Regions from separate parts of the Homo sapiens genome. Here region 2 is linked to region 1. The links come from fine-mapping of genetic effects on gene expression. A gene starts in region 1. The other region holds a variant in brackets. All regions are shown on one strand. Distances are between the middles of the regions. Region 1 holds the start of DHRS2 (dehydrogenase/reductase 2). Region 2 holds the start of LOC105370408 (a long non-coding RNA gene).

What was found. PIP is the estimated chance that this variant, and not a neighbour inherited with it, causes the effect.
Region 2: its variant is fine-mapped to the expression of DHRS2 in liver (GTEx, PIP 0.99).

What each region holds. Positions count from the first base shown.
Region 1 is chr14:23,627,803-23,644,461 of GRCh38, forward strand. It overlaps DHRS2 (dehydrogenase/reductase 2), which reads left to right and starts at 8,562. Exons shown (of 9, transcript NM_005794.4): 1 at 8,562-8,970; 2 at 11,025-11,202; 3 at 11,377-11,554; 4 at 11,992-12,093; 5 at 15,350-15,417; 6 at 16,309-16,360; 7 at 16,607-16,659. The coding sequence starts at 11,063.
Region 2 is chr14:23,682,197-23,698,993 of GRCh38, forward strand. LOC105370408 (a long non-coding RNA gene) reads left to right here and starts at 10,535. Exons shown (of 3, transcript XR_943609.2): 1 at 10,535-10,776; 2 at 10,910-11,150; 3 at 14,661-16,738. RefSeq lists an enhancer at 12,182-12,698. The variant A/G (reference allele first, on the strand shown) is at 8,550.

The DNA.
Region 1 (16,659 bases):
CAACCCTGGAAGCCTGGCAACATATAAGACACCAAGTCAAAGGTCAAACTGGGCAGTTGATCTCTCAAGTCACCTGCTTGGCCCTCTTCTAAGTGCACTTTACTTTCTTTCATTCCTGCACTAAAGCTTTTTAACAAACTTTCACTCCTGTTCAAAAAGTTCCCCCAGTTTCTCACTCTGCCTTGTGCCCCTCAGTCGAATTCTTTCTTCTGAAGAGGCAAAAACTGAAGTTGCTGCAGACCCATATGGATTTGCTGTTGCTAACATACTTTGGTGCAATGTGACTCATATGTTCCCTAGTGGTAACATCTTTAGGTCTCAGATCCTGATAGGGACCAGAAAGCTCTGGAATTCTCTGTGCAACAAAAGATTACATCAGGGACAGAACGCACTCCCAGCTGAAGAGTGACTCAATTATTAGGTTGGTGCAAACGTAATTGCAGTTTTTGCATTGTTGAAATTTGCTGTTTGATATTGGAATACATTCTTAAATAAATATGCTTATGTTGGCCGGGCACGGTGGCTCACGCCTGTAATCCCAGCATTTTGGGAGGCCAAGGCAGGTGGATCACGAGGTCAGGGGATAGAGACCATCCTGGCTAACATGGTGAAACCCCATCTGTACTAAAAATACAAAACAAAATTAGCCGGGTGTGGTGGCAGGTCCCTGTAGTCCCAGCTACTCAGGAGGCTGAGGAAGGAGAATGGCATGAACCCAGGAGGCGGAGCTTGCGGTGAGCCAAGGTCACACCATTGCACTCCAGCCTGGGCGACAGAGTGCGACTCCGTCTCAAAAAAAAAAAAAAAAAAGAGAAAAAAAATATATATGCGCTTATGTTATATATCATTTTAATGTGCATTTCTTGCTTTGCATTTTTTTTGGCTAAGGACTTGTTACTTGCTGTTTATTTTATACTTATTTTAGACTATGGAAATGGTGTTAGACAAAAAGCAAATTTGAGCGATTTTCTTATTTGAGTTCAAAATGGGTTGTAAAGCAGTGCAGACAACTCACATCATCAACAATGCATTTGGCCCAGGAGCTGCTAACAAATGTACAGTGCAGTGGTGGTTCAAGAAGTTTTGCAAAGGAGACGAGAGCCTTGAAGATGAGGAGTATAGTGGCTGGCCATTGGAAGCTGATGACAAATTGAGAGCAATTATCCAAGCTGATCCTCTTACAACTGCACTAGAAGTTGCTGACCATTCTACATTCAGCATTTGAAGCAAATTGGAAAGATGAAAAAGCTCAATAAATGGATACCTCATGAGCTGACTCAAAGTCAAAAAAATTATTATTTTAAAGTGTCATCTTCTCTTATTCTATGCAACAACAGTGAACCACTATCCAGTTGAAAAGTGAATTTTATATGACAACCAGCAATGACCACTTACCAAAGCCAAACTTGCACCAAAAAAAGGCCATGGTCACTGTTTGGTGGTCTGCTGGTCTGATCCACTACAGCTTTCTGAATCCTGGCAAAACCATTACTTCTGAGAAGAATGCTCAGCAAATTGATGAGATGCACTGAAAACTGCAACACCTGCAGCAGGCATCGGTCAACAGAAAAGGCCCAGTTTTCCATGACAATGTCCAACCACTCATTGCACAACCAACACTTCAGAAGTTGAATTAACTGGGCTTTGAAGTTTTGCCTCATCTGTCATATTCACCTGACCTCTCACCAACTGACTACCACTTCTTCAAGTATCTCGACAACTTTTTGCAGGGAACACACTTCCACAACCAGCAGGATGCAGAAAATGCTTTCCAAGAGTTTGCTGAATCCTGAAGCATGGATTTTTATGCTACAGGAATAAATAAACTTATTTCTCATTGGCAAAAATGTGTTGATTGTAATGGTTCCTATTTTTATTACTAAAGATGTGTTTGAGCCTAGTTATAATGATTTAAATAATTTAATTATTATTATATTATTAATACTATATAATTAGTCATATTCTGTATTCCAAACCCTTTCTTTGAAAACTCCTACGTTCCCTCCACGAATTGAAGAGTGGAATTGCTTTCTACTCTTCCCCTGCTAGCATGGATAATAAAGACATCTTGCTCCCTCTTATCATAACTATTATTATTTTGACTTCTTTCCACAAGCAGCAAGCAGCTGGACTCTTTTGCTGGTTATGCTTGTTAAGTGGTATGTGCAGCATTCTGCAGAATATTACTCAGACAACAAGTCCTGCACTTCCCCTAGGTTTCCTCCCAAGTTGTGGGTGAGGCCTTTTCTGAAACCCTCCTCCAACCTTTCTGAATTCTGGGGCTATAAATTCCAGGAATCTTTGTGTTGTTCAGATAGAATCTGCAGTGCCTGAAATCCAGCCTGCTGCTTACTCACATCCTCATACTCAGCTGCAGACTGCCTGACAGAAGGGCTGCCAAACTGCACTCCAGACAGACAGGTGCACAGCCAGGTAAGCCTGGGCCAGCATCACACTGCCCAGGGCAGGCATGATGTGGCTCAGGCTGGGGCTGCCTTGCCTCACTGCCTTGGGTTGGGTCTATAATGACTGGAACTGCCCATCTTCACTCCTGTTCACTTTTTATGTTGATGCTCTTTCTTCCTGCCTCTATGTCTGCAGCTCAGTCTATTTCTTCTTTGATTATCAATACAAAGCTCTTGGGGCTATCAAAGTCCTTTGGACCACCCAAGTCAACCCCTTATTTTACTGTGATACAGATGGAGGCAAGAGGGGAACAGACTTGTCCAAGATCACACAGCTTCTGCTGATATCTCCTTAGTGCTGATGAAAAAGAGTCAAACTGTAAAATATTTGAAGAGATTTATTCTGAGCCAAATGTGAGGACCATGACCCATGACACAGGTCCAGGAGGTCCTGGGAATATATTCCCAAGGTGGTTGGGTTGCAGCTTGATTTTATACATCTTAGGAGAACAGAAGCTACAGGCAGAGACACAAATCAATACATGTAAGGATTACATTGTTTTGGCCCAGAAAGGCAGGACATCTTGAAGTGGGGGCTTCCAGGTCACAGGTAGATTTAAAGATTTTCTGATTGGCAAGTGGTTGAAAGGGTTAAGCTCTGCCTAAAGAGTTGAGGTCAATAGAAAGATATGTTTGTAGTTAAGATAAGGGGAGTTGTGGGAGCCAAGGTTCTTGTTAACGTAGATGAAGCCTCCAGGTAGTAGGCATCATAGATAATAGATTGTAAATATTTTTTATCAGATCCTAAAAGGTGCCAGACTCTTAGTTAAATCTCTCTTGGATCAGGAAAAGACCTGGAAAGAGAAGGGGATTTTCTATAGGATGTAAATTTTCCTCACAAGAGACAGCTTTGCAGGGCCATTTCAAAAAATGTCAAAGAAATGCATTTTGATGTAAAATACTTCAGTTTTTTTCAGGACCTGCTATCTGTCATGTGATGCTATACTAGAGTCAGGTTAGAATTTGGTATCTTATTGCTAAAAGTCTGTTTTTTCAGCCCTAAGATCTCCATTTTACTGTTAATGCTGGTCAGTCATGCCTGAACTCAAAAGGGAGGAGGGTATAATGAGGCATGTCCAACCCTGTATTCCCATCATGGCCTGCACTGGTTTTTTAAGTTGACTTTGGAATGCCCTTTGCCAAGCAGAGGAGTGCTTTCAGTTGGTTGGGGAGCTTAGAATTTTATTTCCTGTTTACATTATTCTCTTTTCTGATTTTCAATATTTCTAACTCTTCCATGTCTCTCATTCTTTCTCCTCTAATCTTTGTTTTCTTCCTCTACCCCCCCCACCCCTTTCCTTTTCCCTTCTCTTCTCTCTTTGGACCAGTGCTGAAGGCCATTCACCTCCAAGATGGGACTAGGTTAAGGGTGTGCCCATTCAGCTTCCCCACCCCCAAATTTGGGCATCTGAATTGATAAGCATGGAAAGGGGTATCAGAGTGGGCAGTGCCAGGCTCAGGGACCATTCTAAGCTCCCAGGACCTGTGGTCAATTCTGCTGCAGCTGACCGAGCTGACTGTTTTGGGGAAAGCATAAGTGAGTGGGGTAGGGTGAACCAGAGGCCTTGGAAGCTGCTCACTCTTCCCATCCTCCCAGGCAAAAGAGGGGCTTTGCATGGGAAGGGGAAGCAGGGGAGACAGAGGAGGCCTGACTTCATCTCTGCAGGTTGTTTACCTGCAACAGTCCAGGCAGAGTTGCCTTTCCTTACAATAGGTCAGCTTTCCTGCAAACCACATTGAGGCAAGTTCAGACAAGCAGGGCTTGGTAAGAACTGTTAGAGGCCAGAAAGGGGACAGCCAGACTTGCTGAGCTAGGAACACATCTCACAGGTGCTGTTACTCTAGCCTTCCAGCAGGGGGCGTCCTGTCCCGACAAAAGGCGAGTCCTCTTTTTCCTGCTGTCCTCCCAGCCAAGGAGACTGGATTCCTCTCAACCTCAAAAGGGGGTTAATCTGAGCTCGCAGCAGAAGGAGAGGAGTTCCCCAGGGGGGGCATAACAATGTTCAGAATCTGGTGTCCTGTTTAGAAAAGGTAGACCAATCAGGAGCTGAAACCCCTTGTCTCCACGTAATGCAAGGCTGTAAATATGACCTTGCAGGAAGGAGAGAGGCGTGAGAGAGTAAGCGAGAGCAACAGCAGGCAGAGTGGAAGCAGCTGGGAGGAAAGAGGGAGGAGGTCTAGGACCTACAAAGATTGTTTTTGGAAATACAATATCAGAAGAGATATAAATCGGAAATCAAGGCTTCCTTCCCAAAGCAAAGCATTTGGTCGCCTGCATTTTGACACTGAGTACAGACTGATATTTAATAGACAGTTTCTTCACAATTCCTGAGCAGCACCCATTCACTTATAATTTATAGATACAGACCCCTAACTCGAAGGAACTGAGTTATGCAAGAGTTGCTAAGGAACAAGGGGAGATGCAGTAGGTAAGGCAGGGGTTGCTTAGTAACCAGGAGTCCCTTGGTGATGGAGTGGCCAGAGCATGTCTGGAACTGATGAGGGTCTGTAGACAGAGTCATCCCAGGCCAGAGCCTCCTGCAAGTTCACATCTGTCGGCCCCTTGGCCCAGAGCTGCCAGAGCCTGCCTCTCTTCACCTTCCTGGCACTGTCCTGTCCCACATGAAAAGCACACTGCTAAGTCCCTGAGTGCCCTGCTAACTAACCCCTTGCTGGAACCACTCCTTCCCTCCCTCTCTCAACAGGAAGCTCATCAGATTCTTCCATTAGAGTAGGGAATGGCAGGCCAATGGGAATCCCACATAGGGGAAGGCAGGAGCCTCTGGGCTAACATGAATGTGGAGCTGGGAAATTAGGATTTGGGTGAAAGAGGGTCTCCTAGACAAGCATCCCTGGCATTTTCCAGTTCATGGTGATATATCTTCATACCTGAGTCTCCCATGCCAGATCCTCTCCCTGCCTTCACATCTGCGCATAGCTACAGAGGCACACCGTTCCCTTCTGAAGGGCCTCCTGAGGGCACAGGTCTCCACACAGCAGCCTGGATGTCTGTGGCTGGTTTAACTGGCTCAGCTCCACGGACATCCCTTCAGAGAGCTTCAATCAGCACCGGCCTGCTGGAGTCATTCAGAACTGCAGTCTGCTTTCTCAGGCATGAGCCCCCCATTCTCTGTATTCCAGGCACATAGGCATCCCTGCTCTCTCCCAAACACCCTGGACATCCACACCCTCCATTCTTCCTCTCAGCCTGTTCCCCTTGACAGGAGGATCTATCCTGTTGCTGCCCCTGTCAAAATCCTCCTCAGTCTTGCAGGTCCTATCTACCTGCAACTTTCCCAGCCTGATTAGCTCACCAGCCTTATTGAGCACTCCTGTGTTTCAAGCCCTGGGCCCCAAGAGGGAGGAGTGGAGCCTGTGTTCAAGGAACTCACATGACACTCATTACTGATCCTCTGCTTCCTGGCTAGGATACTCCATGAAAGCCCTCTGTGAACTGAATGTTTAAAATCAGAAAGTTTTGCTTATTTAAAGCAAAGCCCTTTGCATAGAACAACTTTGAGAAAGTATCTGAGATGCTGGCAAATTTTCTTCTGAGAAGGGAATTGGAGGATTTAATTTTTGAATTAAGTTTTAAGCTGCTTGAATTTTAAAATTTACCATGAGCAGGTAATCTTTACTTTTAAACTTTTAAATTGTGAATTATAACACATACGTAAAAAGTATACACATACATAGGTGATATAATATATCTTCATGGACATCATGTAGGCATCACTTGCTTATCAAATACAACATTGCCAGCACGCTAGAAGCTCTTTAGTTTGCCCCTTCTTTTTTTTTTTTTTTTTTTTTTTTTTGAGACGGAGTCTCCCTCTGTCACCCAGGATGGAGTGCAGTGGTGCAATCTTGGCTCACTGCAACCTCCAACTCCTGGGTTCAAGCGACTCTCCTGCCTCAGTCTCCCAAGTAGCTGGGACTATAGGCATGCGCCACCACACCTGGCTAATTTTTGTATTTTTAGTAGAGATGAGGTTTCACCATGTTGGCTAGGCTGGTCTCCATCTCCTGACCTCAAGTGATCCCCCTGCCTTGGCCTCCAAAGTGCTGGGATTACAGGCATGAGCCACCGTGCCTAGCCTGTTTGCACCTTCTTAATCATAACTGCCTCCCCACAGCTCTACTGCGGAAATACCCACTCTCCTCACTTTTGTGGTGATCACTGCCCTGCATTTCTCTGTATTTTTGTCACCTGTTTGCCTTCTTAAGCAATATAGAATTGTTTTACCTGTTGTTGAAACTTGTGGACTCAAATAATATGTATTCTTTTGTGTCTGACTTCTTTTACTCAACAGTATATTTTTTAAGATTCCTTTATGTTGTTCAGTGTGGCTTCAGCTCATTCATTTTCATTATTGTATAGTATTCCATTATAGAAATGCAACACAGTTTGTTTATCCATTCCACCGTTAATAGGCATATAGACTTTGATATGGTTTAGGTCTGTGTCCCTGCCCAAATCTCATGTCGAATTGTAATCCCCAATGTTGGAGGAGGGGGCCTAGTGGAAGGTGATTGGATCATGGGGGCAGATTTCCCCCTTGCTGCTCTTGTGATAGTGAGTGAGTTCTCATGAGATCTGGTTGTTTGGAAGTGTGTAGCACCTCCCCCTTTGCTCTCACTTCCTCCTGCTCCAGCTGTGTAAGTTCTGCCTGCTTCATTTCACCTTCTGCCTTAATTGTAAGTTTCCTGAGGCCTTCCCAGCCATGCTTCCTGTACAGCCTGTGGAATTGTGAGTCAATTAAACCTCTTTTCTTTATAAATTACCCAGTCTCAGGTAGTTCTTTTTTTTTTTGAGACAGGGTCTTGCTCTCTCTCCCAGGCTGGAGTACGGTGGTGCAATCTCAGCCTACCACAGCCTTGACCTCCTGGGCTCAAGCAATCGTCCCATCTTAGTCTCCCGAGTAGCTGTGACTACAGGCATGCACCACCACACCCAGCTAATTTTTATAGAGACATGGTTTCACCTTGTTGCCCAGGCTGGTCTCAAACTCCTGAGCTCAAGGGATCTGCCCACCTTGGCCTTCCAAAGTACTGGGATTACAGGTGTGAGCTACCGTGCCTGGCCTCAGTTAGTTCTTTATAGCAGTGTGAAAACAAACTAATACAGACTTGTTTCCAGTTTGGAACATTCTAAGCAGGCTTCTCTGAACCTGTGTGTACAGTCTCTTGGTGCACACATGACCTCCTGTCTGCAGGATGCAAGTTCCCTCTACAGAGTCAGAGATCTTTATTTTCAACTTCTCCGTATAATGCCAAATCATTTCCCAAAGTGATTGTACTTACCCTCTACCCAGCAGTGAATGAGAGTTTCTGTTGATTTTGCTTTTTCAACTAGAAGTGAGAGGTGACAATATGCTAGCAGCCCTTGCTCACTCTTGGTGCCTCCTCGTCCTCCACATCCACTCTGGCTGCACTTGAGGAGCCCTTCAGCCCACCACTGCACTGTGGGGGCCCCTCTCTGGGGCTGGCCAAGGCCGAAGCCAGCTCCCTCTGCTCGCCAGGAGGTGTGGAGGGAGAGGCGCCGGCAGGAGCCCACACTGTACAGGGCACTCACCGGCCAGCAGGGGCTCCGTGGGCCGGCCGGTGCCAGCTGGGCCTGACTGGGGGATGAGCTCCCTCTGGGCTGCTGGAGTGCCTGGGCTAGGTGCCGCAAAGTCCTGCAGTGTGTGCCATTGAGAGGTGAAGCCGGCTGGGCTTCTGGGTCCGGTGGGGACCTGGAGAACTTTTCTGTCTAGCTAAAGGTTTGTAAATGCACCCATCAGCACTCTGTGTCTAGCTAAAGGTTTGTAAATGCACCAATCAGCAATCTGTGTCTAGCCAATCTGGTGGGGACTTGGAGAACTTTTGTGTCTAGCTAAAGGATTGTAAATGCACCAATCAGCACTCTGTGTCTAGCTAAAGGTTTGTAAATGCACCAATCAGCACTCTGTCAAAACGGACCAATCAGCTCTCTGTAAAACAGACCAATCAGCTCTCTGTAAAATGGACCAATCAGCTCTCCATAAAATGGACCAATCAGCAGGATGTGGGTGTGGCCAGTTAAGGGAATAAAAGCAGGCTGCCTGAGCCGGCAGCAGCAACCTGCTCTGGTTCCCTTCCACGCTGTGGAAGCTTTGTTCTTTTGGTCTTCATGATAAATCTTGCTGCTGCTCACTCGTTGGGTCCGTGCCACCTTTAAGAGCTGTAACACTCACCGCGAAGGTCTGCAACTTCACTCCTGGGGCCAGCAAGACCACGAATGCACCGAGAGGAATGAACAACTCTGGACACACCATCTTTAAGAACCGTAATACTCACCGCAAGGGTCTGCAACTTCATTCTTGAAGTCAGTGAGGCCAAGAACCCATCAATTCCGTACACATTTTGGTGACTTTGAAGAGACTGTCACCTATCACCAAGTGGTGAGACTATTGCCAAGCAGTGAGACTATTGCCAAGTGGTGAGACCATCACCAAGCGGTGAGACTATCACCTATCGCCAAGTGGTGAGTACCATCAGATCCCTTTCATTTGCTATTCTGTCCTATTTTTCCTTAGAATTCGGTGGCTAAATTCTGGGCACCTGTCGGCCAGTTAAAAGTGACTAGCGCAGCCGCTGGACTAAAAACGTGGGTGTCAGGCTTTCTGGGAAAGGGATCTCTAACAACCCCTGGCTCTGTGGAGTTGGGAATGTTGTTTTGCCTGGAACCAGCTTCCGCTTTTCCTGTACTTCTGGGCTGAGCTGAGGGTCAACAGAGAGGAAAGCCATTCAGCTCCGGAGTCCCCACAACAAGTTGGTTGACCCTGCGGCCATGAGCGGAACTCTCAAAGGCATGTTGCCCAAGTGAGACTCACCTATCTATCCTATCTATCCTGACCCTTGCTCGCTGGGTCCTAATGCCTGCCAGACAAACTTTCTCTCTCCTCTCTTCTCCTAGGCTAGTCCCACTTCTAAAAAACCACTCCCTGTCTCTGGTGCTTTTCTAATTTCTCTTATAAGAATGATTTCTAGTAAAAATTTCAGGACTCTGTTACCTTCTTTAGGCACCTGGGCTCACCAATCAGAAAGACATAATTTTTGCCCAAAGCCCAGTTGTAGGGGGAACTATCTGGAATTTTAGAATCCCTCCTCAGATAAGCAGGTCTAACAAAAGCTATTCCTGAAGCTAGGATAGGGGGAGCCTCAGAAATTGTATCCTTCCTATTCATATAAGTGAGGACAAAAGGTGTCACTTTTCCAACCCTGGAGACCCCTTCCCTCCCTCAGGTTACTCTTCTTCATTTTTGGGGCATAACATCTTTATAGGACACGGGTAAGTTCCCAATACTAACAGGAGAATGCTTAGGACTCTAACAGGTTTTCGAGAATGCGTCGGTAAGGGCCACTAAATCCGATTTTTCTCGGTCCTCCTCATGGTCTAGGAGGACAAGCAAGGGTGCAGCACTCTATGTCTAGCTAATCAGGTGGGGACTTGGAGAACTTTTGTGTCTAGCGAAAGGATTGTAAATGCACCAATCAGCACTCTGTGTCTAGCTAAAGGTTTGTAAACACAGCAATCAGCACTCTGTCAAAATGGACCAATCAGCTCTCTATAAAACAGACCAATCAGCTCTCTGTAAAATGGACCAATCAGCAGGATGTGGACAGGGCCAGATAAGGGAATAAAAGCAGGCCACCCGAGCCAGCAGCAGCAACCTGCTTGAGTCCCCTTCCACACTGTGGAAGTTTTGTTCTTTCGCTCTTTGCAATAAATCTTGATTCACTGCTGCTCACTCTTTGGGTCCGCGCTGCCTTTAAGAGCTGTAACACTCACCACGAAGGTCTGCAACTTCACTCCTGAGGCCAGTGAGACCACAAACCCTCCAGAAGGAATGAACAACTCCAGACGCACTGCCTTTAAGAGCTGTAACACTCACTGCGAAGGTCTGCAGCTTCACTCCTGAAGCCAGCAAGACCACTAACCCACCAGGAGGAATGAACAACTCCGGACGGGAGGAATGAACAACTCCGGATGGGAGGAATGAACAACTCCGGACACACCATCTTTAAGAACTGTAACACTCATTGCGAGGGTCCGTGGCTTCATTCTTGAAGTCAGCGAGACCAAGAACCCACCAATTCCAGACACAGAAGCAGTTAATTAATAACTGGTATAATTATTTGTTGGTGCCTGGCATCTCATTTAACTGGGAAGCTGCATGGTTGGGGTCCAGGGCTGAGTCTGTCGTTTACTAAGGTGTCCCCGCCTCTACTGCCCAGTGCTTGACACATTGCCAGTGCTCAATGTTTGCTATGCAATGGATGGAAAAATCACCCTTGTCTAATGAATGTTGAGTCTCACATTTTAATTTGTGAATAATTTCCCCAGTTTTATAGCTTAGGAGTTTTCATGGATTGCTTTCCTGACCTGAGGTTCACATGTTTGAAATTTACCCTAACCAGCCTGACTCTCTGCCACTTTCTGTTGCTGGCCTTGTCTGTCTGGAGGAAGGAGGAGGGTAGATTACCTTCATGCTCACTGAGGCATCAGTGATAAGTGAAATTGATTCTTTCCCCCAGGCCTGATTCAGCAGGAAGCATCTCAGACACCAACCACTATGCTGTCAGCAGTTGCCCGGGGCTACCAGGGCTGGTTTCATCCCTGTGCTAGGCTTTCTGTGAGGATGAGCAGCACCGGGATAGACAGGAAGGGCGTCCTGGCTAACCGGGTAGCCGTGGTCACGGGGTCCACCAGTGGGTGAGTGCTGGATTGCCCATGGGTCCTGGCCCCTCACAGGGTCCTTGTGGCTTCCACAAGGACTCAGGGTTTTAAAGCAAGACCCAGCCTTATTTGCTGATTTCCAGAGCTGGGTAGAGGAAGGACAGTGGAGAGAGGCTGAGGCTGACTTTTGCCCTCCATCTCTGCATTCAGGATCGGCTTTGCCATCGCCCGACGTCTGGCCCGGGACGGGGCCCACGTGGTCATCAGCAGCCGGAAGCAGCAGAACGTGGACCGGGCCATGGCCAAGCTGCAGGGGGAGGGGCTGAGTGTGGCGGGCATTGTGTGCCACGTGGGGAAGGCTGAGGACCGGGAGCAGCTGGTGGCCAAGGTGAGGGGGCAGGCGGTGGAAGGACACAGAGAGGGGAACATGCAGAACCTTTCCTTCACTGCTTGGCCCTTGTGGGGTGGGTCTAGAATATGTCCTGAGACCATGACTGCACCCAGGCTGCCCAAGCTAACCTCGCTACCCAGAAGGTCCCTCAGGAAAGTGACCTGTTCGTGAGAGGACCCTCACCCCACCCCCAGGCCCGGGGAGAATCACTGTGGAGGAGGAGTCTGAAGGGGTGAGGGAGGTCCCCAGAGGGACTCCTGGAGCAGACCTTCCTCTCTCAGTGCCTGGCCCCAGGAGCCTGCCCTTGGGACACCTAGGTCATTTTCCTTTAGGAGCTCTGCAAGCTTTGCCTGAAGGCCTTATGACCTGGGCTGCCCTGGGAGGGATAGTCCTCCTCAGGCCATCTCCACACTCATCCAATCTCCTCTCCGCAGGCCCTGGAGCACTGTGGGGGCGTCGACTTCCTGGTGTGCAGCGCAGGGGTCAACCCTCTGGTAGGGAGCACTCTGGGGACCAGTGAGCAGATCTGGGACAAGGTGAGAGGCCTCCCCTGGGGAGGCGGCTGAGGGCCCGATTCCAGCTCTGCACTGGGCTCCAGCATGCCTGTGCCCACCAAGACTCTGTTTCCCTCCAGAGGTTATGGGAGAAGCAGGCCCTGGGTGGTAGTCCTGCCTGGCCAGCTGTCTCCCAAAATGTGCCCGGATGCTACTTTCTGGCTTGTTGGTTCTTAAATCTGGCCCCCACACTTTCTGCTTTGTTTTCTCTTCTCATCACTTTTTCATTTAATCATTCAGCAGGTATTTATTGCTGTCTGCCAGGCACCACTATTCCAGGCTCTAGGGATACAGCTGTGAATGGTTAGTCAGAGTCTCTCTGTAAGAGTCAAACATTTTTGTATGGTACACCCTTTTGTAGGGGAAGATACGGATACTGTGTTTTTCTTTGGTGACCTGTGCCTGTAGCGGAGACTGTCTCTCCTAGAAGGGGGCTCCTCACTGAGTCCCACACAAACTTGCCGACAGGACCAGATCCAGCCATCAGCATTCCGGGGGCTTAGACATCCCAGCCTGCTGTAAGTCCATTCAAGGATTCTGCTACCTTGTCCACAAGGGACCGGGAGAGACCTTGTAAAATGCCTTGAAGCTCATCTTGGGCCTAGTTGTTCCCCAGTGACTTCTGTTCCCTTCACTCTCATGTTTTGTTTTCTGTTCTCTCTGCCAGAATGCGTCGTGATGAATCTCATTCTTTCTGCTATTGTGAGCATTCACCACTCTGCCCTAAGCACTGGGTCAAAGTGTTTCCTGCCTTCTGGCCTTAGAGTGTTCTGCCTTCCCTAGATCCTGCACTCTCACTTGCCAACATCATCTTCAGGCTGGCCCCTCCCTTCTATCTGCCCTTGGCTGGGTGCCCTTGGCTACATCCTCAGAGATGATCTGAAATTTGAGCTCCCTGCAGCCCCTGCTGAGCAGCTTCCCCAGGCTCTTTAGCTATGTTGTTAATGCCTCCAAAGGATCATTTGTGATTTTATAGCTGGGATTTTATTGCTGACAGTCTCCTAACCCTCCTGAATCATTTTGCTGTTTAGTGTCTCAGTTCACAGGATCATGACTCTTTTTCTCGAAACTGTTGCAGTCCTCCCTCCTGAAGCTGAGGGCAGATGCCAACAATCTGACCTTACTTTCTCTGATTCTCCCCTGTTCTCCAAGGACTTGGCCTTCAGTGAGCAATTCTGTACCACTGGACAGAAATCATTGATGACTCGTCCCCGATCACATCTGCCATCACCTCAGAGGTGAAATTGTCACAAAATGAGTTTAGAATTTACCAGATGCTCTGCTTTCAACTAAATGTGTTTTCCGTAGGTGTCCTGTAAGGAGAATTCCTTACCACTCATCTTATTCTTGAGCCAGTTTTGAGGCCATCTCCAGGCAGACCCCCCTTCTTTCCAGCAGGTTGGGAAACCTCTGATCTGTTAAACTACCAAAACCACATCACCTCCATCCTTCTCCAGCGACTCCAGCGTGCGCCCTCTTTCAGGCTCATGGATAGTTCTCTGCTCAGAACTACTTGGCACACTGAGCTACTCTCTCTTACTTTCTAATGGGGCAGTTTTCTTCATCAAGGGAGGGAGTCTCACCTTTTCTTTGGCTTGGTTTTTGTTCCTGAGTCCAGGAGGGGTCTTACCTCAGCCCCTCACTCAGCCTGATGCACATGGAGTATTGGACAGATATCCTGTGGGCTGGTTGGGGTCTGTTTTGACCAGGAAACCCTTACAGCTAACCTAATCCTCAATTCCTTCTTATTAGGGACCTCAGGGTGGTACCCACTTCTGACATCTGGACCACTTCTTGCAGTCATTGGGGGTCATCCCCCACACTGGTAACCTGTCATCAAATGGGCCACAGCAACATTCAGCTTAAGTATTTCTCCTTCCCACATCCAAGGGATTGAGTGGGAGTGAGATTGGGGGGTGGAAAAAACAGTGAACAGTCCTGGTGAGTTGCAGATGTGGTCTCATTCCCTAGAGATGCAGGATGCAGCTGACCTGAATCAGGACAGATCCCTGCAGGAGGGACTCCTGGTGCCATGTCAGTCCCACCTGGCACTGCCCTAGCTCCCAGGCTCCGCCTCTGCATCTTTCCTTGCTACTTCCTCTTTCACTTCTCCCCCGTTCCCAGACCCACCAGACAGAGCTTCCAGAGTGTCAGGACATGTGTGACTTAGCCCAGATTCAGACTTTAGTCACAAGCAGGATCAGCATAGACATCTAGCTCCCAGCATGGCAATTCTCTGTTGTGTCTCCCTGTTTGTATTGGCTGCAGGAAAGCTCAGAGCCAAGTCTGCGATAAGCTGGTGTGTGTAGGCCCTTACAGCCTGCATTTTTATGACCAAATAATAGAATAAATGCTCAGTCCTTATCACATGCTGTGAACTGTAGGCACCAACCTCACTCTTGCTTTTTCTTATTTTTCTACACTGATTTTTCCTTTTCTCCATTTCTTCACACATAGTACCTATTTGATTTATTTTATGCTGTTGCATTGTGAGTATGCCTTAAATTCTATGGGGACAAGGTAAGAGGACAAGCAAATGAAAGCTCAGAGAGACAAAAAAGGCTCTTCCAGAAATCTCCCTTGCTTCTAGCACCTGCTTCCCCTCCATCAGGCTGTCTTCAGTCTTTCTCCAGAGGCCTCTGCTTACAGTGTGTTGTTGTTTTCTTTTTAAGAGACAGGGTCTCACTCTGTCACCCAGGCTGGAGTGCAGTGGCATGATCATGGCACACTGCAGCTTCAAACTCCTGGGCTTAAGGGATCCTCCTGCCTCAGCCTCCTGAGTAGCTAGGATTATAGGTGTGCACCACCACACCAGGCCAATTATTTAAAAATCTTGTAGAGACAAGGTCTCACTATGTTGCTCAGGCTGGTCTTGAACTTTTGGCCTTGAGTAATCCTCCCACCTTGGCCTCCTAAAGTGCTGAGATTACAGGCATGACCCACTGCCCCCAGTCCCCATTTTCTTTAAAAGGCCTGAACATTTCCTTCCTCGTGTCAGTCCTGAACAATTCACATTTTCAGGGCTCTGCTCACAGGCCTGTGACTTAGCCTGCCTGCCTATGAAACCATTAGCAAATTGGAAATACCTCTTGCACCAGTCAGAAGGGGGATTGGTTTCTCTTATATGCACATACATTGGGTCTACTGCACAAATTACAGGGCTCCAAGTGTCTTATGAGAGCAGGACTTGGGCTGACCATGTCTCTCTGCCCTCACCCATGCTCTGCTCTGATTTCAGATCCTAAGTGTGAACGTGAAGTCCCCAGCCCTGCTGCTGAGCCAGTTGCTGCCCTACATGGAGAACAGGTATGGCAGGGCGGGGGTGGGGACCAGTCGGAGTTGGGGACCTGAGGTGGGCACAGAAATACAGTCGGTAGCACAGCCAGTAGTGGGTAGAGGACAGAAGAGGTCTGGGATCTCCACATCCCTCATCTTCTTGTCCTGCCTCCCCATCTGTGTGGCTGCCATTCCCAATTCCAGTGGCTGCAGGATGAGAGTAGTATTCCAGGGGCCCAGGCATAGCCTCCTTGGCCTTGACATCAGCAGGTTTGGGACAAGGCTATGCTTTAACTCCTTGACCTTGTGGGCTGGTCATTGTCACCTTACCTGCTCTCTGTTCTTACCAACTTAAAACCAATGACAGGGTTAGCCCCATTCCTCTCCATAGGAAAAAGCCTGTCCCAGACCTCTCCTCATGCCTGCGCTTGGTCTCCAGGGACCCTGCCTGTGTTCCAGGTCCTGCAGATCTGACTGTACCCCTCACAGACACACCCTTAGGAACTGGCCAGGGGCTGTCTTCAGTAGAAGGAAAGTTCCTGACTGTCACTTCTGGTCTCCCTTACCCCATCTGCTCCTTAGAGGTTGCTCATTGATAGGCACTCACCATCAGCCTTGGGTGCCTCTTCACAAAGCCCACCCTGCCCTCTCCTTCAAGCACCTGGCAAGAGAGGAAGCAGAAGATAAGGGTTCTGAGCATGGACATCGTATTTATGAGAAATAGGCATGGAATCCTAGCTCTGCCGTGTATTGGCTGGTACTAAACCTTTCTGAGCCTCAGTTTTCTGAACTCTGAGATGGGGACAGTAATAGGACCTGTGTTGCTTCTGTGAGGGTTGCATCATTTAATGAACTCATGATAGTGTCACCATCAGTGGTAAGCTCTTAGCTTCAGCTTCTCTTATGTTTGTCTTGTCTCAGGAGGGGTGCTGTCATCCTGGTCTCTTCCATTGCAGCTTATAATCCAGTAGTGGTAAGTGCTTGGTCCTTGTGCTCCTGAGTGGTATAGGGTGAGGGGCAACTTTGTTCTTTTCCTCAGAGCCTTACAGACAAAGTGCCTGGGACAGACCCCCACCATCCTCCTGCTGCCCTGGGCTGAGCTTGTCTCCATGTGGGTGGGAGGGCTGCTGGGCCTGTGAGATCCCTGTAGGTGAGAAATCCAACTGATGCTTTCCCCCACTCTCCCATATCCTAATCACTCTGTCAATTCCCTTCCCAGGCGCTGGGTGTCTACAATGTCAGCAAGACAGCGCTGCTGGGTCTCACTAGAAC
Region 2 (16,797 bases), 54 kb after region 1:
TCTTCTCACGTTTATGGCAGTCACCTCTTCCTCCCACGCTTTGACCAAAGGGAAGCTGCTCATGTGCCATGTCTTTCTTCCGAGGGTCTTGTCACCACTCTTTGGAACTCAGTTCACGTAGTGGCCTGAACTCTCTGATGGACTGAAGAAAAGCTACAATTTTGCAGATTGTCTATATTTTTTCATTACTAGGGTGAGGGTGATGTTCTCTTGTGGCTTCGTACATCCTAAGTGGAAGCAGAACGCCTCCCATCTCATTTTTAAATAAACAACTCTAAACCAGGATAAGGACAATTATAGATTAATCTCATTGGTGAACATGGATGCAAAAATCATGAAGTTGTAATAGTATGTATACAGTAGTATATATATTATATATATTTTATATAAATAAATCATGGCCATGAAGGGTTTATCCCAAGAATACAAGGAATGTTCACCAACAAAAATTAATCATCATAATCCAGTCCAACAGATCAAAGGAATAATCCATACAATCATTTAACAGATGCAAAATTTTCTTCTATATAGTTTTAAATCTATTCATGATTTTTAAAACTTGCAAACTAAGACTAGAAGAAAATTTTCTTAAATTAGTATAAAATTCTACCAAATACCTACAATAAATACCATTTAATGGTAAATACCATTACATTCCCACTGAAGTCAGGAATAAGACAAGGATGCCTGCATCACCCCACCATCCAGCATCACACTGGAGGGTCTGTCAATACAATGAGATAAAAAAAGTAAGGCATAAGAATTCATAGAGAAGAGAAAAATTCAATATTTACCAAATGCATAGAATTTTTGAAAATATATTAGAACTAGTTAGATAATTCTGCAGTTTGCTAGCTACAAGGTCAACATGTAAAATCAATACAGTTGCCATTTAACACGGTGCCAGTTAAAAATGTTTTTTTTTTTTAAAAGGTAACATTCACAAGATCTATAAGATATCTAGGAATAAAAAGAACATAGATTTTTTTTTTCAGTATCTTCATGGAAAAACTATAAGCTATCTTTTTTTAAGAGATGGAGTCTCACTCTGTCACTCAGGCTGGTGCCCATATAAAACATCTTTGAAGAGCAAAATGAAGCTCTGACTAAGTGGAAAGACATTTCGTATATAAGAAGGCTCAACAGCTTACAGATGTCCATCTGTCCCCACTTTAATAAATGAAGTAAATGCAATTCTGATCAAAATCTCAACAGTTGTTGCTTTTAAATAATGGAACTCATATAGAAAATGGAAACTTTGAAAATAGCAAAAACAATTTCGACAAAGAAAAATAAGATGAGGGTACTTGGCTTATTATAGCCCTGTGGTAAATAAAATGTTGTGTTATTGGAACAGGGATAGACAAGTAGACCTGTAGAATGGAATAGAGAGCCTGGAAAGAGACCCTCACATAGATGAAAATTTGGGAAATGACAGAAGTGTTGTTACAAGTCATTACAGGAAAGGAAGGACTAGTCAATAAATGATAACCACATGACTGGTTTTCCACATGAAAATAAATTAAGATTCCTACTTTAAACCATATACAAAAATAAACTAAAGTTGAATTAAGAGCTAAATATGAAAAATGCAAAACTGTAAAACTTTCAGGAAAAATAATTCATTAATTTGTTCATTCATTCAACAAATATTTATTGAGCTGCTGTTACACACTGGCCTAGTATTAAGGACAGAGCAGTGAATAAAACAAAGTCCTTGCTCTAGTGATGGTTTATGTTAACAGTAAACAAATAAATATGTAACATGTCAGGTGATGATAAGTGCCATGGAGAAAAATAGAGCAGGGTAAGGGACTAGGAAGTGATCATAGGTGGGTTTGCTACTTTATACAGGGTGGTTGGTGAAGGCTGTCCTGATAGGTGACACCTGAAGAGAGACCCGAAGGAATTGGGGGAGTTTGGCACGTGGATATTCAGGCAAAAGAAATTTTCAGGCAGAAAGACCAGCTGAACAATTGCTCTGAGGCCGGAGAGTACTTGGCCTTTGAAGAACAGCGAGAAGGCCAGTGTGGCTGGGATCGGGGAGAAGGGAGTGGTAGAAGATGAGGTAAAAGAGCAAGTAGTGAGGCCAGGGGACACAGGGCCTTGAAGGCCATGGCAAGGACATCTAAAGGGCATGGCACATCATGGGAGGATTTGTGCTAAGGAGCGACAGGATATGAGTGCAGTTTATAGGATTACTCTAGCTACTGTGCGGAAAGTAGATTGGAAAGGTGCAAGGGTGAAGGGGCAGGGAGTTGTGTTAGAAGGCTATTTCAATAGCCCAGGTAAGGGATGAGGTGACAGGGGTAGAGGTGGTAAGAAGTGGATGTTAATCAAGTGTTCTGATATACTTTGAAGGTAGAGAAGATATAATTTGCTGACGTGGGATGTGAGAGAAGAGGAGAAGCCAAGGTGTGGCGACTCTGAGGCTTAAGCAACTGGGCTAACAATGGTAACTTTTAATAAGATGGTGAACTCTATGGGAGGAACAGGCTTGCCGTAGAGCATTAAGAGCTTGGTTTTAAACACGTTAAGTTAGAGACACTTATCAGACATCAAGTAGGCAGCTGAACAGTATATGAGTCTGGAGTTCAGGAAAGAGGGTGGAGCTTGAGATAGCAATTTGAGAGTGGTCGGTCTAATAAATGGTATCTAAAACCATAGGGCTGGAAGACATCACCTAGTGGGTTAGTATTTACAGAGGAAGGGTCTGAGGACTGGGCCTTGGGATACTCCAATTTTAGAGTTGGGAGGAAAGTGAAGGAACCAGTGAATGAGACTGAGAAGAAGCATTCAGTGAGATTTGAAGAGAACCAAAGAGAAGGAGGTGTGTCAAGAAGGAGCAAGCGAATATGTCAAATGCTGCTGAGAGGCTGGGTAGGGTGAAGATTGAGCATTTATCATTGGATTTAGCAAAGCACAGATTATCTGTGACCTCAATGATAGTTTCAGGGCAGTGGTGATGAAAGGCTGTTTGGAGTAGGTGCAACAAAGAACAGGAGAAGAGTAAGTGGAGAGCGTGCACACAGATAATCTTTTTGAAGAGTTTTTCTGTAGAATGAGGGAGAAAAATGGGATGGTACTTGAGGGCATCATATATTAAGGGATTGTGGTTTTTAAATATAGAAAATATACAGAGTGTTTTCATGCTGATGGGAATGATCCAGTAAAGAACAATAACCTTGAGGAGGTGTGAGAAAGGATGGGACCCAGGGAAAAAAATGGAAGGTTGGTTTTACACAGGAGCACTGACAGTTTATCCACTGTACTAGAAAGAAAAGCAGAGAATTTGGAACCTATGTAAGGGATTGGTAATACTGTTTAAGGGATTGGTAATACTTTTTAGATTGCTTCTACAATCTCAGTGCAATAAGAAACAAGGCCATCAGCTAAGTGAGGAAGTAGAAGGTGTTGGAAGTTTGAGAAAAGAGAAGTTATAAGATAATTGTCTGTAAGAGTATAAGAGAGTGAATTGACCAGGGAAGTGAAGCAAGATTGAAGGGCAGCACTAAAGACCTTCCTAAGGTCAGTGGTCATGAATTTAAAGAAAGACCCTTCACCATGCTTGTGTGTTTTTCCCTAGTCAATATCATTTGCTTGTGTGCTATTAGAGAGTAAACAGAGAGCTACGTTTCTCCAGTTTTGGGTTTTTTTTTCCTGGAAAAGTCCAAGAGAGGAAGAGAAGAGCAAGGGAACAACTACACATACAGATAAGAGACTCTCATGATGGAAGGTGGAATTAAGCTCAGTTATATAGAAGGTGAGGACACGAATGGGGTGACGGATGTGCAAAGTGACAGGTCAGTGGAGAGCGAGCAGGTTCCATTAGGTTTGAAGAATTTTGAAACTGGGCTATTGGAGGGAGGATGCTGAAAGATGAGAAGCCATAGTGAAAGAGTGAGATGCTTCTTTCAAGGTAATGGGGAGAATGCTGTTGTTGGTAATGGCAAGGTCTCACGCATGACTGTGGAAGTTGGTGGCTTGGAGGAGGGTGAGGATAGGATCACCGGGAATGAAGGGGTCAAAGAACTAAGAAGATCATGCTTATGAATGTTGAAGTCACTAATAATTGAGACAGATCTGGTCCTAGAAAGAGACAATGACCCAGGTGCTAAAATCTTCAAGGAATGAGGAATGGTAGGTAACCTGGAGGTCTTAAGATGACCGCAAAAAGTAGAAGTAAAATGAGCAAAGCCTACCAAAACAGGAGTAGGTTCAGAATATGCAAATACCTTAAAAACAAATAAGAAACAAGCAAGCAACCCAATAAGAAATGGACAGAGAACGAACAGGCAATTTACAGAGGAGGAACCCTGAATGACCCAGCAGGAAAAGAGGATCAACCTCACTGCTAATCAAGAAAATGCAAAGCAAGACAAGATGCTCTTTAACATCTACCAGAATGACACAGATGAAAATGTCTGAAAGCACCAGCATTAGGAATGATATGGAGGAATAGGAGCTTTCATACAAGTGTAAGTTGCTACAATGGCTTTGGAAAACAAATTTGGTAATATACAGTAAAAATCAAGATGCATGTGATCTTTGACCCAGCTTCTTCCTCCCAGATATAAACTCTGGGAAAAGCTCACACATGTGTGGTGCAAGGAGATATGCACAGGATACTTATGGCAGCGTTATGTGTAATAGATAAAAATTAAAACAACCTAAATGACCGTCAACAGGAAAGTAGGTAAGTAGATTGTGTTTAGTCACACAATGAGAATATTCTATGCTGGTGCAAGTGAATGAACTAGAGATGCGTATGTTGTGGTTCAGTTCCAAAAACAAGGTTGCTAAAAATCAGTAAGTTGCATAATGATAAGTACAATGTGATAACACCACCTTTGGTAAAGTTTAAAAACAAATAAGACAATACATATGATTTATGAATGCATATGTAGTAAAATGTACAAAACATGAACAAGAAGGATATATACAACTTCTGAACAGCAGCCACCTCTGGGGAGGGCAGAGAGAGGAGAATGGATCTGGAAGAAGCGCAAAGTGGAGGTTCTATTCAATTTGTAATGTTTTATTTCTTTTCTTTTCTTTTCTTTTCTTTTTTTCTTTTTCTTTTTTTTTTTTTTTTTGAGACTGAGTCTCACTCTGTTGCCCAGGCTGGAGTGCAGTGGTGCAATCTTGGTTCACCTCTGCCTCCTGGGTTTAAGCAATTCTCGTGCCTCAGCCTCTCAGTGCTGTTAGGGTGTCAATTTTAGATCTTTCCTGCTTTCTCTTGTGGGCATTTAGTGCTATAAATTTCCCTCTGCACACTGCTTTAAATGCGTCCCACAGATTCTGGTACATTGTGTCTTTGTTCTCATTGGTTTCAAAAACATCTTTATTTCTGCCTTCATTTCGTTATGTACCCAGTAGTCATTCAGGAGCAGGTTGTTCAGTTTCCATATAGTTGTGCAGTTTTGAGTGAGTTTCTTAATCCTGAGTTCTAATTTGATTGCAATGTGGTCTGAGAGACAGTTTGTTTTGATTTCTATTCTTTTACATTTGCTGAGGAGTGCTTTACTTCCAAGTGTGTGGTCAATTTTGGAATAAGTGTGGTGTGGTGCTGAGAAGAATGTATATTCTGTTGATTTGGGGTGGAAAGTTCTGTAGATGTCTATTAGTTCTTCTTGGTGCAGAGCTCAGTTCAATTCCTGGATATCCTTGTTAACCTTCTGTCTCGTTGATCTGGCTGATATTGACAGTGGGGTGTTAAACTCTCCCATTGTTATTGTGTGGGAGTCTAAGTCTCTTTATAGGTCTGTAAGGACTTGCTTTATGAATCTGGGTCCTCCTGTATTGGGTGCATATATATATAGGATAGTTAGCTCTTCTTGTTGGAATGGTAAAGGGAATTGATCCCTTTACCATTATGTAATGGTCTTCTTTGTCTTTTTTGATCTTTGTTGGTTTAAAGTCTGTTTTATCAGAGACTAGGATTGCAACTCCTGCTTTTTTTTTTCCATTTGCTTGGTAGATCTTCCTCTGTCCCTTTATTTTGAGCCTATGTGTGTCTCTGCATGTGAGATGGATCTCCTGAATACAGCACATTGATGGGTCTTGACTCTTTATCCAATTTGCCAGTCTGTGTCTTTTAATTGGGGCATTTAGCCCACTTATATTTAAGGTTAATATTGTTATGTGTGAATTTGATCTTCTCATTATGATGTTAGCTGTTTATTTTGCCCGTTAGTTGATGCTGTTTCTTCCTAGCATAGATGACCTTTACAATTTGGCATGTTTTTGCCATGGCTTGTACCTGTTGTTCCTTTCTACATTTAGTGCTTCCTTCAGGAGCTCTTGTAAGGCAGGCCTGGTGGTGACAAAATCTCTCAGCATTTGCTTGTCTGTAAAGGATTTTATTTCTCCTTCACTTATGAAGCTCAGTTTGACTGGATATGAAATTCTGGGTTGAAAATTCTTTTCTTTAAGAATGTTGAATATTGGCCTCCACTGTCTTCTGGCTTGTAGAGTTTCTGCCAAGAGATCTACTGTTAATCTGGTGGGCTTCCCTTTGTGGTTAACCTGACCTTTCTCTCTTGCTGCGCTTAACATTTTTTCCTTCATTTTAACCTTGGTGAATCTGACAATTATGTGTCTTGGGATTGCTTTTCTTGAGGAGCATCTTTGCGGTGTTCTCTGTATTTCCTGAACTTGAATGTTGGCCTGCCTTGCTAGGTTGGGAAGTTCTCCTGGATAATATCCTGAAGAGTGTTTTCCAACTTGGTTCCATTCTCCCCGTCACTTTCAGGAACACCAATCAAATGTAGATTTGATCTTTTCACATGGTCCCATATTTCTTGCAGGCTTTGTTCATTTCTTTTTACTCTTTTCTTCTTGCTTTATTTCATTAATTTGAACTTCAATCACTGATACTCTTTCTTCAACTTGATCGCATCAGCTATTGAAGCTTATGCATGCGTCATGTAGTTCTCATGCATTGGTTTTCAGCTCCATCAGGTCATTTAAGGTCTTGTCTTCACCGTTTCTTCTAGTTAGCTATTCGTCTAATTTTTTTTCAAGGTTTTTAGCTTCCTTGGGATGGGTTCAAACATCCTCCTTTAGCTTGGAGAAATTTGTTAATACCGACTTTCTGAAGCCCAGTTCTGTCAGCTCATCAAAGTCATCCTCCATCCAGCTTTGTTCCTTTGCTGGAGAGGACCTGTGATCCTTTGGAGGAGAAGTGTTGCTCTGGTTTTTAGAATTTTGAGCTTTTCTGCTCTGGTTTCTTCCCATCTTTGTGGTTTTTTTTTTTTAAATTATACTTTAAGTTTTAGGGTACATGTGCACAACGTGCAGGTTTGTTACATATATAAACATGTGCCATGTTGGTGTGCTGCACCCATTAACTAGTCATTTAACATTAGGTATATCTCCTAATGCTATCCCTCCCCCCTCTCCCCACCCCACAACAGGCCCCGGTGTGTGATGTTCCCCTTCCTCTGTCCATATCCACCTTTGGTCTTTGATGTTGGTGACCTACAGATGGAGTTTTGGTGTGGATGTCCTTTTTGTTGATGTTAATGCTGTTCCTTTCTGTTTGTTAGTTTTCCTTTCAACAGTCAGGTCCCTCAGCTGCAGGTCTGTTGGAGTTTGCTGAAAGTCCACTCCAGACCTTGTTTTCCTGGGTATCACCAGTGGAGGCTGCAGAACAGCAAATATTGCAGAACAGCAAATATTGCAGAACAGCAAATATTGCTGCCTGATCCTTCCTCTTGAAGCTTCATCCCAGAGGGGCATCTGCCTATATGAGGTGTCATTCAGCCCCTACTGGGAGATGTCTTCCAGTTAGGCTACACAGGGGTCAGGGACCCACTGGAGGAGGCAGTCTGTCCATTCTCAGAGCTCAAACACAGTGCTGGGAGAACCACTGCTCTCTTCAGAGCTGTCAGACAGGGACATTTAAGTCTGCAGAAGTTTCTGCTGCCTTTTGTTCAGCTATGCCCTGCCCCCAGAGGTGGAATCTACAGAGGCAACAGGCCTTGCTGGGCTGCGGTGGGTTCTGGCCAGTTTGAGCTTCCTTGTCTGTTTTGTTTACCTACTCAAGCCTCAGCAATGGCAAACACCCCTCCCCCTTCCAGGCTGCTGCCTTGCAGGTCAATCTCAGACTGCTGCACTAGCAGTGAACAAGGCTCCATGGGCATGGGAACTGCCAAGCCATGCGCAGGATATAATCTCCTGGTGTGCCATTTGCTATGACCATTGGAAAAGTGCAGTATTTGGGCAGGAGTATCCTGATTTTCCAAGTACAGTCTATCACAGCTTCCCTTGGCTAGGAAACAGAAATACCCCAACCTCTTGTGCTCCCGGGTAAGGTGATGCCCTGCCCTATTTTGGCTTGCCTTTTGTGGGCTGCACCCACTGTCCAACCAGTCCCAATGAGATGAACCAGGTACCTCAGTTGGAAATTTAGAAATCACCTATCTTCTGTGTCAATCACACTGGGAGCTGCAGACTGTAGCTGTTCCTATTCAGCCATCTTGAAATGGAATCCCTACCTGAAGTGTTATCTTCATCCTGGGTAAATTGTTTGTTCAACTAATTTA[A/G]TATTTAGCCTTATGATTTTTTGACATCCTCAGTTCCAGTGAGCTTCAGCTCAACTTCACTTCAGCCACTTCCAATTGTGTTGGTGACTTAGACTTGTCATCACCCAGGTCCCTTCTATCTTGAAATATTAAATGTATACATCCTACTCTCTGGCCACGAATTCTTGCTTTTCCACTGGTTTCTGCTCTATTTCCTTTTACATCAGCTCTTCAACATTACAGAGAATTCTTGTTCCCTGACCTCTCTGTATTGTCCTAATCTGTAAATCCCTCTCTCATTTTATTTCCTTCTTTATATAGCCTAGACTGCACAATATATCCCTTCAGTTACTGTCTTGTAAGTTCTTTAATTGCTTTCCTCACTTCTTTTTCACTGTACACTGTTGGGAGAATATTTGTGCCTGATCAATCCAAATGTCCTTTCTTCCATAGCTAAGTTGTGGAAAGTTGTAGAAATTCACTTAACAAATTTGGCTTTTAATGTAAATTGACTTTTGATATCACTCGTCACCTTTTCCACATGATCTTACTCAGGACCACTTCCCTTCCCCATCAACACATATTTAAACCACCAGTTGTATTAGTTTGCTAAAGCTCTGTCTTTTTTTTTTTTTTTGAGACAGAGTCTTACTGTGTCACCAGGCTGGAGTGCAGTCATGAGATCTCAGCTCACTGCAACCTCTGCCTCCCAGGTTCAAGCCATTCTCCTGCCTCAGCCTCCCAAGTAACTGAGACTACAGGCATGCACCACCACACCCAGCTAATTTTTTTTGTATTTTTAGTAGAGACGGGGTTTTACCGTGTTGGCCAGGATGGTCTCAATCTCTTGACCTCATGATCCGCCCACCTTGGCCTCCCGAAGTGCTGGGATTACAGGGGTGAGCCACCATGCCTGGCCCAACTAAAGCTCTGTCTTAATCCATTTTCTATTGCTATTAACAGAATACCACAGACTAGTAATTTATTTTAAAAAGAAATTTATTTCTTCCAGTTCTGGAGGCTGGGAAGTCCACGCTTGAGGGGCCACATCTGGCGAGGGCCTTCTTATTGCATCATAAAAAGATAGAGGGGATTACCTGTCAGGGGGGCAACAGTATGTCAGCTCAGGTCTTTTTTCTTCTCTTTATAAAGCCACCAGTCCCATAATGGAGGCATAACTTGATGACTTTATCTCATCCTAATTTTCTCTCAATGCCTCACCTCCAAATGCCATAAACATATGAATTTGGGGATTTAGGTTCCAACAAATAAAGTTTAGGAGACACATTCAAACCATAGCAGGTTACCATAACACAGCACCATAATCTGAGTAGCTTAAACAACATACATTTATTTTCTCACAGTTCTGGAAGATAGAAGTTCAGAATCAGGGTGTTTTCAGGGTTGATTTCTTCTCAGGCCTCTCTCTTTGGCTTCTAGATGGCCATCTTCTCCCTTTGTCTTCACATGGTTTTTCCTCATGTGTGTCTACATCCTAATCTCTTCTTCTTATAAGGGCATTGGTTATATTAGATTAGGGCCCACCTCAATGTCCTCATTTAACGATCATTACCTCTTTAAAGACCCCACCTCCAAATACGTCACATTCTGAGGTACTTGGGGTTAGGACTCCAATGTATGAATTGGTGGCAGGGGTTAGGCTTTGGCAGATAGACACAATTCAGCCCAGGACAGTCTTCTTAAGCCTGCTCCTTTTCCACCTCGCTCTCCCTCTTTGTAGAGGAGACAGAAATAATTATCTGGCCTCTCCCACTGCCTTATAAATCTGACTGTGAGGAGTTCTCTTCTTTCCCCACCCCCTCCTATTGAGGCAGAAATTTAAAAATAAATATGCATTCATTCACTCTGAAAGTAACAGGCAAGGCAAGGGTTAAAAAGAAAAAAACAGGTTTTCCTCTGCCTAGCAGAGGAAAGTGCAGCAAGCTCACTTCAAGGACAGTTATAAGATAATACTGTTTGAGAAGCCAAGGCCAAAGGAATGGACCCCAGACACCCCCCAGCTCCAGAGCAAGGTTGAAGGAAAAAAAAAGAAAGACAAATTCTTTTACTGTTACTCCTTTCCCAGGCTTCTTAAGCATGATTATGTTTTACAAATGTCTGTATTTAGCCACTTGTTGTTTTTCTTTCAATGCAGCTACAAGGCCACCAGCTATGCAAGGCCACAAGTTATGCTATGCTATAGATTATGTGACCTATCATATTTGATAAACGTTTGGGTTTATTTATTGTAAGTCTGCTTATAAAAACCTGTCTCTGTCTTTGTTTAATGCTCAGCTTTTTGGATGTGAGTCCACTGAGCTGGCGTGTACCTACAATGAACAATCCTTCTGTACTCTCATATCAGTCTCTCTGGTCCTCAGTTTCCTGCAACATTTTTGGTGACCACAAAAGGACCAGAGACAGCAGGTTTACTGTTTCCTTTGGCTCTGGGCGCTGGAGCCCTGGGCCTCAGGAGACCTGTGACCCCAGGTACCACTGGAAGAACTTCAGCCCGGAGAGGAAATCAGCTCTCCCCTGACCCGGCGCCCCTACCCAGCAGTGCAATGGAACCTGAAAGGAGCTACAGGACAATTTCAGAAACAGCACCCTTCAGGAACTGCGGTAAGGTTTTAGGGCCCAAGGCAGGACCTGTCCCATGGGGATGGAAGGGGAGCCTAATCACCTCCTGGGATGTGCCGAATAGTTCGACCCAGAGGGGCTGGGGGCAACAGGAGTAGCTCATCAATTCGGATGAATCTCACACCCCAGTCGACACAGGATGCGAGAGTGGCTCGCTAAGTCAGCTAGGAAACTGGAGATGGTAAGAGTGGCTCGCCACCCCAACTAGGAAACTGGAGGTGGCAAGAGTGGCTCACCACCCCAACTGGGAAAGTAGAGGGGGTGAGAGTGGCTTGCCACCCCAATTACAAACACGGGAACTGGGAGTGGGGAAGTGTGTGGAAGTGTGTGAATGGAGGGGCCTAATTAGGCTCATCAGCTGTGAAGTGGGGAGTCACAGATCTCTTAGCATGGACTGTATCCTCCAAGAACGTGTGGGGCCAACTAAGACTAGTGGTGATCTGCATATGGCTAATAGGAGCTGCCCCATAGCTCAGAGTTGCAGTGAGAATAAGGACCTCTGCAAAGCCAAGCAGCATCTGAAAACTCCCATAATAGGAGATGGTATATTCGGCCGAAATGAGAGGAACAGTGAGTGTGCAAGAGTGATTGTGCTGTGTCGTAAAGGGAGGAATGGGAGGAAAGTCATCAAAAGTTACTCCATTGGAGTACATGTTACAGAACCTTAAGAAAGATTTTGCAAGGGATTATGGACTTAAGCTAAACCCCCAAAGATTGAGAACTCTCTGTGAATTAGAGTGGCCTTCTTTTGGTGTTGGGTGGCTGACTGAAAGAACTATAGATAGGGATAATTGGCTGTGCATTTAAGGTGGTGACAGGGCTTGGAGGACAGCCAGGGTACCCAGACAAATTTCCTTAAATTGATTCATGGTTAAATATAGCACAGACAAGAGCAGCCTGGATCCAGCCCTATTTAGCAGCTTCACTGGCAGACACAGAGTTAAAGGGGAAGTTCCAGAGAGAGCAAGAGAAGCCAGTTTTGCAGGAGCTGCCAGAGGGAACAGAGATTCGTCCCAGCCTACCCCCCTTTGCCAAGGCTAACAGCCCCCCAGGAACCAGATTCAGGAGCTAACACACCCCAAGTTTCACCCCAAAGGGCAGAATCGGAGCCTCGAGAGGCCAGGGAAGGAAGTCAAGATAGTCAAGCAGGCAGTCTCAGATCTGGCTGTGCTTGAGCTATGCAAATGCCTCTCAGGGAGGTGCGAGGACCCATCTATTATTATGATCAAGGCCAGGTTCAAGGGGGCAATGAACTTTCATCTACCAGCCCTTTTCAACCACTGATCTTTTAAACTGGAAATGCCACATTCCCTCCTACACGGAGAAGCCCCAAGCTCTTACAGATCTGATGCAATCCATCTTTCTGACATGCAATCCAACCGGGCCAGACTGCAGGCAGCTCCTCCTCACATTATTTAACACTGAGGAGTGCAGGAGAGTAACATAGGCAGCTCTCTGCTGGCTAGAAGCCAATGCACCAGAAGATGCAGTGAATGCTCAGGTACGTGCTCAGAGTCAGTTCCCAGACCAAGATCCCAACTGGGACCTGGTGGATGCAACACAACTTCAGCGTTTGCAGAGGTACCAAAAGGTCGCTTTTGCAAGGGATAAGAGCTGATAGAAAGCAATTAATATAGGGAAGATTTCAAAAGTGCTTCAGGGAGGTGATGAGAGCCTAAGTCAGTGGCTTTGTGAAGTATTACAGAGACTTTGTGAAGTATTCTGGTTTTACACCCCATTTCACCCTGAGGCTGCTGAAAATCAGCACATGGTAAACACAGCATTGGAAGGGCAAGCCCAGGGTAACATCAAGCAGAAGCTGCAGGCATGAATGCCACTCAGTGTACGTTAATCAGGACCAGAGAACAAAACAGAAAAGAGCAAAAGCAACAAGTGTGGTGCCAGGCAGCTAGGCACGCCAAGGGTTAAGCCCCTTTCCCCAGCCCGGCTCTATCTGGAAAAAGAGGGGGGAGGGGGGGACCAGCACCGGGAGAAGAGCAAAGGAGATGGAAGGGCATAATTCTGACATTTTGCGGCAGGCATCTCCCAAGCCTCTGGGCCAATGATGGCCCAGGGGGACTACGGTTGTGCAGACCCCACCCAGCCCAAAAGAGTAAATGTGAGAAGGGAAAGAAGAAAGTAAAAACAGAAATCCGAAAGAAACAGGAGAGACCTACGGCAGTGTGTGCGTGGGGGCGGGGCCGGTGTCATTGCCTGGCCCGCTGGCCTTAGGAACAGGAGAACTCAGGAAGGAAAAAGGAAGCAGATTGAAGGCTTAAGAAAAAGGCCAATCTGTTGGCAGCAGTCTTTATAGAGAGATTAGCAATGTGAGAGGACGTGGACGCAAATGTGGATGTGGAAGCGGTCAAGTTAGGCAGAGATTCAAGAGCCAGACAAGGCTAGAAAGAGATTAATGTGCGGGATGCAAAAAGAAAGGACACGGGAAGGATGAATGTCCAGAAGGTAATAAAGAGAGTGGTAAATGCTGTGATATAAAGAAGTCATTGGCCAAGGGCTGCCGCACGTTAGAGGAACCAGATACTGATCTGATTGGGCTGGCAAGAGCTGAAGGGTATGAGGACTAGGACAGACCAGGCTCCTTTTCATTAAGCCTCCAGGATCCCGTGGTCACATTAGAAGTTGAAGGCAGCAGGATTCTGCCACATCTGGATCCCAAATTTCTCACTGATGGCTAAGCCACTATATAAAGTTACAAAGGTTGGGTCGGGGGAAGAAAAAGTATCCTTCCTCTGGGACACTGAACTGAGAAGGAGCCATGCCTTCATGCCTTGTGAAAAACTTGCTTATAGACTTTACCGAAATGCCCCATGCTGGAGGCTGGCAGTATATGCTAGTGTTTATTTGCACCTTTTTCATGATGGAGTGAGGCTTTCCCCACTAGGACAGAAAAAGCACGAGAAGTGACTAAAGTACTGTTAAGAGACATTATCCCCGGGTTTGGACTGCCTCTAACTTTAAAGTCAGACAATGGGTCAGCATTTGTAGCTGAAATAGTGCAAGATTTAACAAGACTGTTAAAAATAAAATGGAAGTTACACACAGCCTATCGGCCACAAAGTTCAGGAAAAGTGGAACCACGAACCGGACACTCAAGCAGCTACTGAAGAAATATTGCCAGGAAATTCATCTGAGATAGGATCAGGTTTTGCCTATGGTCCTCCTCTGAGTCAGGTGCACCCCCACCAAACAAACTGGGTATTTACCCTATGAGATTTTGTTCGGTGGGCCACCCCCAAATCATAAGTCAAATTAAAGATGATCTCCAGGAACTAGGGGAATTAACTTTAAGAAAACAAATGCAGAAATAGCCATGCAAAGTGTTCATAATTAGGTACATGAAAAAAATGCCTAAAAACCTGATACCCCTTTAAACCTGGTAACTCTAGGTTAAAAAGTAGAACCCAACTTCTCTAAGACTCATGTGGGATGGGCCCCATACAGTAATCTTGTCCTTTCCCACTGCTGTTAAAGTTGCAGCTGTTGTGTCTTGGATCCACCACAGTTGGCTGAAACCGGCAGCTCAGGACAAGTGAACCAGCCAGCAGGACCCAGACCATTTGACTCGGCTGATCTTGTGACAAGACTGAGTTGCTGCTGAGTACAACAGCCCTGCTCTGGTCACTCCAGAGGCTGACCAGTCTACACACGGGTGAAGCTTGAGGAAACAACAAGCTCTGCTCTAGTCACACACCAGAAGCTGACTAGTCTATGCACAGCTGAAGCTTGAGGACTTGTCAAGCAAGTAAATGTAGTTAGAAATCTTAGGACTAGTAGTTTTCCTGTAATACTGTTTTACTATTGTTCCGTCGCTGTGCTCAATCTTCTTCCCCAGGTAAGGACCTCTTTTGTCCTTGCTGGATATGAATATGCTGTACATTGCTTTGCTGTTGTTACCCCCCTTAACCATGCTAGAAGAATCACCCACAGAAGGGTGTCTCCACCGTACACATACTACTTGGTCAGGGAACAGCATAACTAAAACTCTATTGTACCATACTTATTATGGGTGTATGGGGAATCGCTTAGGAACTTGTACTTATAGTCAAACCACCTACTCAGTTTGTGACCCAGGAAATAACCAACTTTATGTATGTTATGACCCCAAGTTTTCACCTGGTGAATGGTTTGAAATTCGTGCAGTCAAAAGAAGGTCTCCTCTTAAACCAAACCAGGGTCCCTCCCTTTTACTGAGGGACTATTTCTCTGTATTTTGATGCTCGTTAGGTAGCATACCAAGACTCACCCATCTGTGGTAACCTACCTTTGGAAAGATACTATAGAAATAACTACAAATATGTATGCACGCCAAGAGCAACTCCACATTGTTCCCCTGGGACCCCAGAGAAAGATTGTTGGTATTGCATATCATGGCACCCTAGCCACAACAAAGGTCAATTATGCTTACCAAAATGCTGGTGGACTGCAGGTTCCTCCTTACATGTCTACATACACACATACCCAGCAACCTTCATATATGTTATCAAAAAGGGAACCCAGACCCGTCTGGCCCAGCAAGGCACAAAAATGAGGAACGCTATCTATCAGAACAGATTAGCTTTAGACTATCTCCTAGCCCTAGAAGGAGTAGTATGTGGAAAGTTCAATTTAACAAATTGCTGCCTGGAAATCGATGACAATGGAAAGGCAATTATGGAAATAACTGCAAGAATGAGAAAATTAGCCCATGTTCCAGTTCAAACTTGGAAAGGGTGGTCTCCAGATTCTCTCTTTGGAGGCTTGGTTTTTATTTTTCTGAGGGTTCAAGACTTTAATAGGAGTGGTTCTGGCCATATTAGGAAGTTGCCTAATACTCCCTTGTCTCTTACCTCTCCTTGTTAGAAGCATTCAATCGAGTATAGAGGCAATAGTAGCTAGGCAAACTACCACTCAGCTAATGGCTCTGCATAAATATCAACCTTTGTCTAAATAAGAAAACTCGTCCCTTCAGGCAGAACTAAGTAATAGTGATGCCTTCTATTAAACTTCTTTTATAAAAGGCATCAAAGGGGGGAAACTGAGGCAGAAATTTAAAAATAAATATGCATTCATTCACTCCAAGAAAAGTAACAGAAAAGGCAAGGGTTAAAAAGAAAAGAACAAGTTTTCCTCTGCCTAGCAGAGGAAAGTGCAGCAAGCTCACTTCAAGGACAGTAATAAGATAATACTGTTTGAGAAACCAAGGCCAAAGGAATGGACTCCAGATACCCCCCAACACCAGAGCAAGGTTGAAGGAAAAAAAAGAAAGACAAATTCTTTTACTGTTACTCCTTTCCCAGTCTTCTTAAGCATGATTATGTTTTACAAATGTCTGTATTTAGCCGGTTGTTGTTTTTCTTTCAATGCAGCTACAAGGCCACCACCTATGCAAGGCCACAAGTTATGCTATGCTATAGATTATATGACCTATCATTTGGTTAACTGCTTTTGTTTTATTTATTGTAAGTCCACTTATAAAAACCCGATTCTGTCTTTGTTTAATGCTCAGCTTTGTGGATGTGAGTCCGCTGAGCCAGTGTGTACCTAAAATAAACAATCCTCCTATACTCTCATATCAGTCTCTCTGGTCCTCAGTTTCCCACAACACCATAAGTGAAGGCTGTTGCTGTGC